3 linked regions of the Homo sapiens genome follow. The protein of the gene in region 1 interacts with the protein of each later gene in a pairwise test. Each region holds a gene or a part of one and is shown in the gene's direction. Other genes may lie near its edges.

What was found.
Region 2: the proteins of DYRK1B (region 1) and TROAP interact in binary tests that used the Homo sapiens proteins (3 or more experiments, as listed by UniProt).
Region 3: the proteins of DYRK1B (region 1) and RBL1 interact in binary tests that used the Homo sapiens proteins (3 or more experiments, as listed by UniProt).

Annotation. Positions count from the first base shown.
Region 1 is NC_000019.10:39,827,977-39,831,285, reverse strand, and holds part of DYRK1B (dual specificity tyrosine-phosphorylation-regulated kinase 1B), read left to right. Parts: intron 1-502; coding exon 503-622; intron 623-722; coding exon 723-911; intron 912-1,258; coding exon 1,259-1,406; intron 1,407-1,483; exon of another isoform or gene 1,484-1,570; intron 1,571-2,702; coding exon 2,703-2,989; intron 2,990-3,309.
Region 2 is NC_000012.12:49,326,240-49,329,380, forward strand, and holds part of TROAP (tastin), read left to right. Parts: intron 1-428; coding exon 429-481; intron 482-969; coding exon 970-1,091; intron 1,092-2,687; coding exon 2,688-2,816; intron 2,817-2,921; coding exon 2,922-3,005; intron 3,006-3,141. UniProt on the Homo sapiens protein: Could be involved with bystin and trophinin in a cell adhesion molecule complex that mediates an initial attachment of the blastocyst to uterine epithelial cells at the time of the embryo implantation.
Region 3 is NC_000020.11:37,068,481-37,072,133, reverse strand, and holds part of RBL1 (retinoblastoma-like protein 1), read left to right. Parts: intron 1-3,653. UniProt on the Homo sapiens protein: Key regulator of entry into cell division. Directly involved in heterochromatin formation by maintaining overall chromatin structure and, in particular, that of constitutive heterochromatin by stabilizing histone methylation.

The DNA of each region.
Region 1 (3,309 bases):
TGAAGCAGGATGAAGTGGGAGGTCCAGGGGCCAGATCCAGATCCAAGAGCCTTGGGGTGAAAGAACTGTGCAAAGAGTTGGTGGGAGTATGGGTTGAGGCCCAAGGGATGAGGGTAAATTGAGATAGAGGTACTTCAGAGGGTACCCAAAATGGCTGGCTTCAAAGTGAAGAATGGGGAGGAACAGAGCCCAGGTTTTCCATATGATCTCTCCCTCTGAGGTTCAGAAAGGAGTAAAGGTGAGGGGTGAAAGGTCAGAGTTCACTCATTCACACCACAGATCTCTAAGAGCATCCATTGTGTGCCAGGCCCTGCTGTAGGCACTGGAGGTATAGTAAGAACAAGAGAAAGTCTCAGCCCTGGGGGAGTTTCTTTCCTAGACAGGTGGAACAAATACAGACAGCAACCAAATACATGATGTGCCAGCAGCCCTTACAGTTCTTCCTCTTGAGGTCGGAGGTGAAGGCACGTCCTCAGTGCCCACCCCTCACCCTGCCCTGCAGGTATTGCCTGATGTGCGGCTACTGCCTCGGAGGCTGCCCCTGGCCTTCCGGGATGCAACCTCAGCCCCGCTGCGTAAGCTCTCTGTGGACCTCATCAAGACCTACAAGCACATCAATGAGGTGGGCAGGGGCTGGGGGATCCTGGGCTGGGTGCCGAGGGTCTTGTCTGCTGGCATGAGTCACTCACCAGTCCCCATCTCCTGGCTGGCTGGCTGGGCAGGTATACTATGCGAAGAAGAAGCGGCGGGCCCAGCAGGCGCCACCCCAGGATTCGAGCAACAAGAAGGAGAAGAAGGTCCTGAACCATGGTTATGATGACGACAACCATGACTACATCGTGCGCAGTGGCGAGCGCTGGCTGGAGCGCTACGAAATTGACTCGCTCATTGGCAAAGGCTCCTTTGGCCAGGTGTGGGACACCCCCCACCACCCTGATCCAAGGCCCCACTAACATTGATCACACACCCAGTGGTTCAGTGGCTTCAAGTCCCATGCTGGGCCACTCACCCTAGCCCACTTAGTTTCCCTGTGCCTCAGTCGCCTTTTCTGTAAAACAGTTTAAATAACAAGACTCAACATAAGGTCGTTATGTTATTTCACATCCAGTGTTTACACCAGCGCCTGACTAATGGTGCGCACTCAGCTGCGAAGTATGCATAGTGTTCTTGGTGGGTCTCCTTGCCTGGAGGGAGAAGAATGGTGCCTGGCTCTGCCCTGCTCCCACCCCTTTCTTCGTGACATGCCCTGCCCCAACAGGTGGTGAAAGCCTATGATCATCAGACCCAGGAGCTTGTGGCCATCAAGATCATCAAGAACAAAAAGGCTTTCCTGAACCAGGCCCAGATTGAGCTGCGGCTGCTGGAGCTGATGAACCAGCATGACACGGAGATGAAGTACTATATAGGTGAGGCCTGGGACTGGCAGGGCTGTGGGCACCTGGGATAGCGGGAGCTGGAGCCAGTAGGGATGGGTCACACCCCCGCCCTACTCTCAGGAGGAGGCTGATGTCTTCAGAGCAGGGTTTGGTCTGTGCTTCTCTGACATCAGTGATTCTCCTGCTGCTTTTATGATTTTTGTCCTATTTTCTTGGTAATGGTCAGAGGTTACTGAGTGCTCACCAAGGGCCAGGCTCTCTTGGAAGCACTTGGAAGTTAACTCACCACAGCCCATAAGGGGAAGGGCATTATTAACAACATCTTGAAGATAAGAAACCTGGGCTTCCATCCTAGTTTCTTCTTCAATAAAACAAACAAAACGGGCTGGGCACAGTGGCTCACGCCTGTAATCCCAGCACTTTTGGAGGCCGAGGTGGGCGGATCATGATATCAAGAGATCGAGACCATCCTGGCCAACATGGTGAAACCCCGTCTCTACTAAAAATGTGAAAAAATTAGCTTGATGTGGTGGTGCGCGCCTGTAGTCCCAGCTACTCAGGAGGCTGAGGCAGGAGAATCGCTTGAACCTGGGAGGCGGAGGTTACAGTGAGCTGGGACCACGCCACTGCACTCCAGCCTGATGACAGAGCGAGACTCCATCTCAAAAAAAAAAAAACCCAAAACAAACAAAAAACCAAACCTAATAACAACAACAACAGTTACAACAACAACAAAAAAAAACGAAGAAAGGAAAAAAGAAACTCAGGCATTCAAGTGCTGTCACTTGCATGAGGTGGCAGTTTGTACTAATTGAGCTATAATTTGATGAGGTCGTGGACTCCAGAGCTGTTACTCTTAACATCTGTGCCAGTCTTTCTCCTCCCTTAAACTGATTCCTGCTCATGGACATAAACATCACAACATAATCATAAACAGCAAGTGGATTTTAAAATGGTTTCGTTTGAAAGGAAAACGTATATCCTTAAAGTAAACGGAAAACCAGTGTCCTTTGCCACAAAAATGAATACAAGGGAGATGAAAGCAGTGTTATGAAATTAAATGAGGAAGTGTAGAATGTGTTAGAGCTAGTAGTAACTAATGAAACTTTCTCTTTGGTTTAATTGGAGGGTTTGACAGAGACTTGGAAAGAGCATTAACTTCCTGTGTGAATCTAGTTGTTAGATAAAAAGATTTTGACTAGCAGATGGTACCCGTGGGGACAGCACAATGTGGCTAGTAATCAAAGAGCGTTGTATGACCCCAGGCCACCACCTGCCCTCTCTGAGCCGTTTCTTCTCTGGCCCATTTCCTCCCCTCCCCCGCAGTACACCTGAAGCGGCACTTCATGTTCCGGAACCACCTGTGCCTGGTATTTGAGCTGCTGTCCTACAACCTGTACGACCTCCTGCGCAACACCCACTTCCGCGGCGTCTCGCTGAACCTGACCCGGAAGCTGGCGCAGCAGCTCTGCACGGCACTGCTCTTTCTGGCCACGCCTGAGCTCAGCATCATTCACTGCGACCTCAAGCCCGAAAACATCTTGCTGTGCAACCCCAAGCGCAGCGCCATCAAGATTGTGGACTTCGGCAGCTCCTGCCAGCTTGGCCAGAGGGTAGGGGGCGGCCCGGTCCTGGGAGCACGGCTAGTAGTTTGGGTGGGGCAGAGCCAACGGGAGGCTTAGGGGCGGGGCTTGGCTGGGATGGGATTATTAGGAGCCGTGGGAACTGAGGGATAATGCTTGGGGTGGGGGTGTGAATATACTGCCCACTAGGATGGGAAGGGTGAAGCCTGAGGGGCAGGGCCCATTTTGAAGCTGCCAGATGTGAACAGGGTGAAGTTGGGTTGGGTTTGAGCCAGGGGTGCTGCCTCGCTAAGTTTTTGTCTTCTCTGTTCTTAAAGCTGAGGATGGAGGTGGAAGGCTTCAACTTTGCA
Region 2 (3,141 bases), on another chromosome or scaffold:
GCCTTCCAGGAGCTTTAGGACTCCCCACCAACTCAGGAGGGGAAGCAAGAAACCTGTGATTACCCGGGATGAGCCCTTGGGATAGGGTTCAGGCTTTCACAGCCAGGCCTCAGTGTGACATCAGTTTACTCAAGTCATGGGGGGACAGGGAGGACAGAAATGTGCTATCTCTTTTGTTTAGTGGCTAGAGTATAGACTGTGGCAATAAGTGGGATTTGGGTTTATATCCTAACTCTTAACACTTACTATTTGTGCAAGCTTGCCTTCACCTCTCTGAGCTTTGGTTTCTTTGTCAAGTGAGAATAACATTTGTACCATCATTAGTTGTCATGAGAATGAAATGAGATGATGTTTGTAAAGCACTTAGCACATGTCCAGCTCATACTTGGTATTCAGTGACTGCTGGCTAATGTCCTTATTGTCATCAGGACTTCAGTGAGCCAGGCCTCAGGATTGCTCCTGGAGACCCCAGTCCAGCCTGGTAAGTGTTTCTGGCGTGGGGAGAGAACAGGGGCAGTTGGGCTGCCTGAAGCAGGGAACAAGACCAGAGAAAACTCAGCAGGCTGGGAGGGAGCATGAGGAAGTGGGAGGCCGGGAGGCTAGGTCAGAAGGAGAAGGAGAAGAGACCTTCTAGATAGGCCAGCGATTGGCACAGTTGCACTTTTGTCTAAGGAGATGGTCTCCATTTCGGCCCTCTCTCTGCCACTTCCTGCAAGATTTATCTTCCACTCACTGTTTATCCCCAGCCCCTAAGTGCCATCACCACATCCCCAGCCTACTCAGACGTTCAGATTAATAAGTGTTTACTGAGATAGTGTTGGGTGTTGAGGGGCTGCTGGATGGGTTCCTGTCCCTAATAGTGCAATGGGGCCTATTAAACTAATATACCCTCTTCAGAAGTTGCAGAACACTGTGCCAAACTTTGGTGGGTGTTCTAGAGTCTACAACAAATGTCCTGTTTCTTCCTAGCTTTCTCTCTTCCTAAAGGAGAACGCGAGGTTGTCACTCACTCAGATGAAGGAGGTGTGGCCTCTCTTGGTCTGGCCCAGCGAGTACCATTAAGAGAAAACCGAGAAATGTCACATACCAGGGTGAGATGCGACTCTCCTGGGATGGTGGGTGGGAGGTGCAGGAGTTGCTTGGAAGAATTTTGCTGCAGCAGCCAACACTGAGAATTGTAGGTAGAGCCAGGAAGTCCTGGGCCTCAGGATGTTACTGGGTAGGTTTACCCCAGATGCACCCAGTCCCTCTCCAATGTGAGACTGACCTCTCTTTATCAGATGTCTGGGGCCTAGGGTGAGAGGTCATATTTGTATCACCATCAGATCAGTGCTAAGGGTGAGACAGATCTGACACTTGTCAGCCAAAAGCATTCATCCCTTGGCTCCACAAATATTTACTGAGTAGCACCAGCCTACTGAGTGCCAGGCTCTGTTCTAGGCTCTGGACATATAGCAGTAAACAAGTTCATATTCTAGAAGGGGGAGACAAGAAATAAACACAGGTATAAAATAAATAGTGTCTCAGATGATGGTAAGTTCTCTCTAAAATAATAATAATAATAATAATAAGGCACTAAAGGAGAATTGGGAGCAGGGGAGTTGGTATTGCAATTTAAAATAGATTTGTCAGGGAACTCTTACTGAGAAGATGATGTTTAAGTGAAGACCAGGGGTTGGAGGAGGAGTGAGATATGTTGATATCTGGGGGAAGGAACATTCCAGGCCAAGAGAACTGAAGAGGTAAAGGCCCTGGGGAGGGAATGTGCCTGGTGTGTTTGAGGATCAGCAAAAAGGAGAGGCCAGTGAGATTGAAGCAGAGTAAGAAGAACAGTAGGAGATAGGGTTTTAGCGATAACACGATCAGATTGGGTAAGGAATTGTACACCAGTGTAAGTCTTTGGCTTGTCTTGGAATGAGTGGAAAGCCATGGGGAGAGGGGTTGATCAAGAAAGTGACATGATTTGACTTAGGTCTTTTTTTTTTTTTTTTTTTTTTTTTTTGAGATGGAGTTTCACTCTTGTTGCCCAGGCTGGAGTGCAATGGCACGATCTCCGCTCATTGCAACCTCTGCCTCCTGGGTTCAAGTGATTCTCCTGCCTCAGCCTCCGAGTAGCTGGGAATACAGGCATGCACCACCACGCCTGGCTAATTTTGTATTTTTAGTAGAGACAGGATTTCTCCATGTTGGTCAAGCTGGTCTCAAACTCCTGACCTCAGGTGCTCCACCCTCCTCGGCTTCCCGAAGTGCTGGGATTACAGGCCTGAGCCACCATGCCCGGCTTGACTTAGGTCTTAAAAGAATCACACTGGCTGCTGTAGTGAGAACACGATATAGGAAGACAGCCAGGCGTGGTGGCTTACTCCTGTAATCCCAGCACTTTGGGAGGCCGAGGCGGGCAGATCACGAGGTCAGGAGATCGAGACCATCCTGGCTAACATGGTGAAACCCCATCTCTACTAAATATACAAAAAATTAGCCGGGCATGGTGGCGGGCACCTGTAGTCCCAGCTACTCGGGAGGCTGAGGCAGGAGAATGGTGTGAACCCGGGATGCGGAGCTTGCAGTGAGCCAAGATCGCGCCACTGGACTCCATCCTGGGTGACAGAGCGAGACTCCGTATCAAAAAAAAAAATAGGAAGACAAAGGGGGCGGGGATCACTCTTCCACCTTTTTCTTCTTCACAGGACAGCCATGACTCCCACCTGATGCCCTCCCCTGCCCCTGTGGCCCAGCCCTTGCCTGGCCATGTGGTGCCATGTCCATCACCCTTTGGACGGGCTCAGCGTGTACCCTCCCCAGGCCCTCCAACTCTGGTTTGTGTCAACAACTGGGGGCTGGGCAGGGGCAGAACAGTCTGGCCGGAGATCCTTGCTATGTCTGGGTTTTGTCCCTGCTCAGCCACCCACATCTCTCCCCAGACCTCATATTCAGTGTTGCGGCGTCTCACCGTTCAACCTAAAACCCGGTTCACACCCATGCCATCAACCCCCAGAGTTCAGCAGGTAAGAGAGGGCATGGAGAGGTGGCTGGCATAAGTCACAGCTAGGGGAGAAAGGAGATGGATGGGTACAGGAGAGAGAAGACAGAAGCAAGGGGAGGCTGAGTGCCATCTGTGGGTGTCAGCCCTTGCTGACATCT
Region 3 (3,653 bases), on another chromosome or scaffold:
AAAAAATATTTAGTAATCTGACAAATTTTTTGCTGCTGTTGGTAAGAATCTTTTAATGAGGTCCTTAAGAGTCTCAGATTATATCAGCATGTCCAGAGTTTGAATGCTGTATTAGGACGTTTTACGTTGCTATGAAGGAATACCTGAGGTTGGGTGACTTATTTAAAAAAAGAGATTTATTTGGCCCAGGGTTCTGCAGGCCGTATAGGAAGCATGGGGCTGGCATCTGCTCCTGGTGAGGGCCTCAGGAAGTTTACAGTCACGGTAGGTGAAGGGGGAGGAGGCACATCACATGATGAGAGCAGGAGCAATTGAGGGTGGGAAGTGCCACACTTTTAAACAGCCAGATCTCAGGTGAGTGACAACTAAACTCACTACCATGAGGAGAGCACCAAGCCATTCATGAGGGATCTGCTCCCATGACCCAAACACCTCCCACTAGGCCCACCTCCAACATTGGAGGTCACGTTTCTTTTTTATTTTTTTGAGACGGGCTTTCACTCTCTTGCCCAGGCAGTAGCATGTTCATGACTCACTGCAGCTTCAACCCCTCAGGCTCAAGTGATCCTCCTGCCTCAGCTTCCTGAGTAGCTGGGCCCACAGTCACACACCACCATGCTTTGCTAACTTTTAAATTTTTTGTAGAGACGAGATCTCACTGTGTTGCCCAAGCTGGTCTCAAACTGGTGGGCTCAGGTGATCCTCCAGCCTCACCCTCCCAAAGTGTTGGGATTACAGGCATGAGCTACCATGCCCAGCCAAGGAAATTACATTGCAACATGAGATTTGGAGGGGACAAAACATCCAAACCACATTAAATAGCTTTGGATGATTTGCTATTAATGTCTTCTGTCACCTTAAAAAGAAATTATAAGTATTGGCCAGGCGAAATGGACTCAAGTAAGCCTTTCCAATCTACATGAAATAATCAGAACATAGGGCCGAGTGCAGTGGTTCATGCCTGTAATCCCAGCACTTTGGGAGGCCGAGGCAGGTGGATCATCTGAGGTCAGGAGTTCAAGACCATCCTGGCAAACATGGTGAAACCTTGTCTCTACTAAAAATACAAAAATTAGCTAGGCATGGTGGTGTGCACCTGTAGTCCCAGCTGTCAGGAGGTAGAGGCAGGAAAATTGCTTGAAGCTGGGATGCAGAGGTTGCAGTGAGCCAAGATCATGCCACTGCACTCCAGCCTGGGTGACAGACTGAGACTCCATCTCAAAAAAAAAAAATTACAAGTATTATTCTGTATATATTGCTAGACCTTTAATTAAGTGAGCTTTGACATGACAAGTTTTCTATCTAAGACCACGTTAACATAGGGACATAAAAAAATGTACCCAGAATTGGCCTGGGCACGGTGGCTTGCTTGAACACAGGAGGTGGAAGTTGCAGTAAACCAAGGTGGTGCCACTGCACTCCAACCTGGGCACCAGAACTATTAAGTTTTTTTCTGAGTATGTGCTACCTTCTTTACTTTTGGTTGTGGAACCACACATTGGAACTCAAACTCTTGAATTTTACTCCTAACCTGTAACAATCTGGTGCTTTGTAATCAAATTCCCATTTGGAAAATGGAATTGTCTTTCCATTTGGGAGACTTCTGTTTTCCCTCAAACTAATTTTATTTTATTTTATGTTTTTTTTTTTAAATTTATTTATTTTTTATTGATAATTCTCGGGTGTTTCTCACAGAGGGGGATTTGGCAGGGTCATAGGACAATAGTGGAGGGAAGGTCAGCAGATAAACAAGTGAACAAAGGTCTCTGGTTTTCCTAGGCAGAGGACCCTGCGGCCTTCCGCGGTGTTTGTGTCCCTGGGAACTTGCGATTAGGGAGTGGTGATGACTCTTAAGGAGCATGCTGCCTTCAAGCATCTGTTTAACAAAGCACATCTTGCACCGCCCTTAATCCATTTAACCCTGAGTGGACACAGCACTTGTTTCAGAGAGCACAGGGTTGGGGGTAAGGTCACAGATCAACAGGATCCCACGGCAGAAGAAGTTTTCTTAGTACAGAACAAAATGAAAAGTCTCCCATGTCTACTTCTTTCTACACAGACACGGCAACCATTCGATTTCTCAATCTTTTCCCCACCTTTCCCGCCCTTCTATTCCACAAAGCCGCCATTGTCATCCTGGCCCGTTCTCAATGAGCTGTTGGGCACACCTCCCAGACGGGGTGGTGGCCGGGCAGAGGGGCTCCTCACTTCCCAGTAGGGGCAGCTGGGCAGAGGCGCCCCTCACCTCCTGGACGGGGCGGCTGGCCGGGCGGGGGGCTGACCCCCCCACCTCCCTCCCGGACAGGGCGGCTGGCCTGGCAGGGGGCTGACCCCCCCACCTCCCTCCCGGATGGGGGTGCTGGCCTGGCGGGGGGCTGACCCCCCCCACCTCCCTCCCGGACTGGGTGGCTGCCAGGCGGAGACGCTCCTCACTTCCCAGACTGGGTGGCTGTCGGGCGGAGAGGCTCCTCACTTCTCAGACGGGGCGGCTGCCGGGCGGAGGGGCTCCTCACTTCTCAGACGGGGCGGTTGCCGGGCAGAGGGTCTCCTCACTTCTCAGACGGGGCGGCCGGGCAGAGATGCTCCTCACCTCCCAGACGGGGTCGCAGCCGGGCAGAGGTGCTCCTCACATCCCAGACGGGGTGGCGGGGCAGAGGCGCTCCCCACATCTCAGACGATGGGCGGCTGGGCAGAGACGCTCCTCACTTCCTAGATGGGATGGCGGCGAGGAAGAGGTGCTCCTCACTTCCTAGGTGGGATGGCGGCCGGGCGGAGACGCTCCTCACTTTCCAGACTGGGCAGCCAGGCAGAGGGGCTCCTCACATCCCAGACGATGGGCGGCCAGGCAGAGACGCTCCTCACTTCCCAGACGGGGTGGCAGCTGGGCAGAGGCTGCAATCTTGGCACTTTGGGAGGCCAAGGCAGGCGGCTGGGAGGTGGAGGTTGTAGCGAGCCGAGATCACGCCACTGCACTCCAGCCTGGGCACCATTGAGCACTGAGTGAACCAGACTCCGTCTGCAATCCCGGCACCTCGGGAGGCCGAGGCTGGCGGATCACTTGCGGTTAGGGGCTGGAGACCGGCCTGGCCAACACAGCGAAACCCCGTCTCCACCAAAACCAGTCAGGCGTGGCGGCCCGAGCCTGCAATCGCAGGCACTCGGCAGGCTGAGTCAGGAGAATCAGGCAGGGAGGTTGCAGTGAGCCGAGATGGCAGCAGTACAGTCCAGCTTCGGCTCAGCATGAGAGGGAGACCGTGGAAAGAGAGGGAGAGGGAGACCGTGGGGAGAGGGAGAGGGAGAGCTCCTAATTTTGTATTTGTAGTAGAGACGGGGTTTCTTCATGTTGCTCAGGCTGTGTCTTGAACTCCCGATCTCAGGTGATCTCAAACTAATTTTATAACCTGTCAATCTGTTAACTAACATTAACTTTGTAAATTTTATGCAAAATATTGTCTAGGTAATATAGAGAATAAAGGAAGTAGATAGGTGCTCTCGCTCCCTCCATAGCAGTAAACTCTATGTGATGACCACTAATTAATAACCTGTATTCCCCTGGTGATCCTGGGAACGAAAGTGATTTCATAGTGAGGACTTTTTTTTTTTAATTAAATTTAGGCTTGAGGGATGGTGTTTGTTCTTTGTTCATGTAAGAC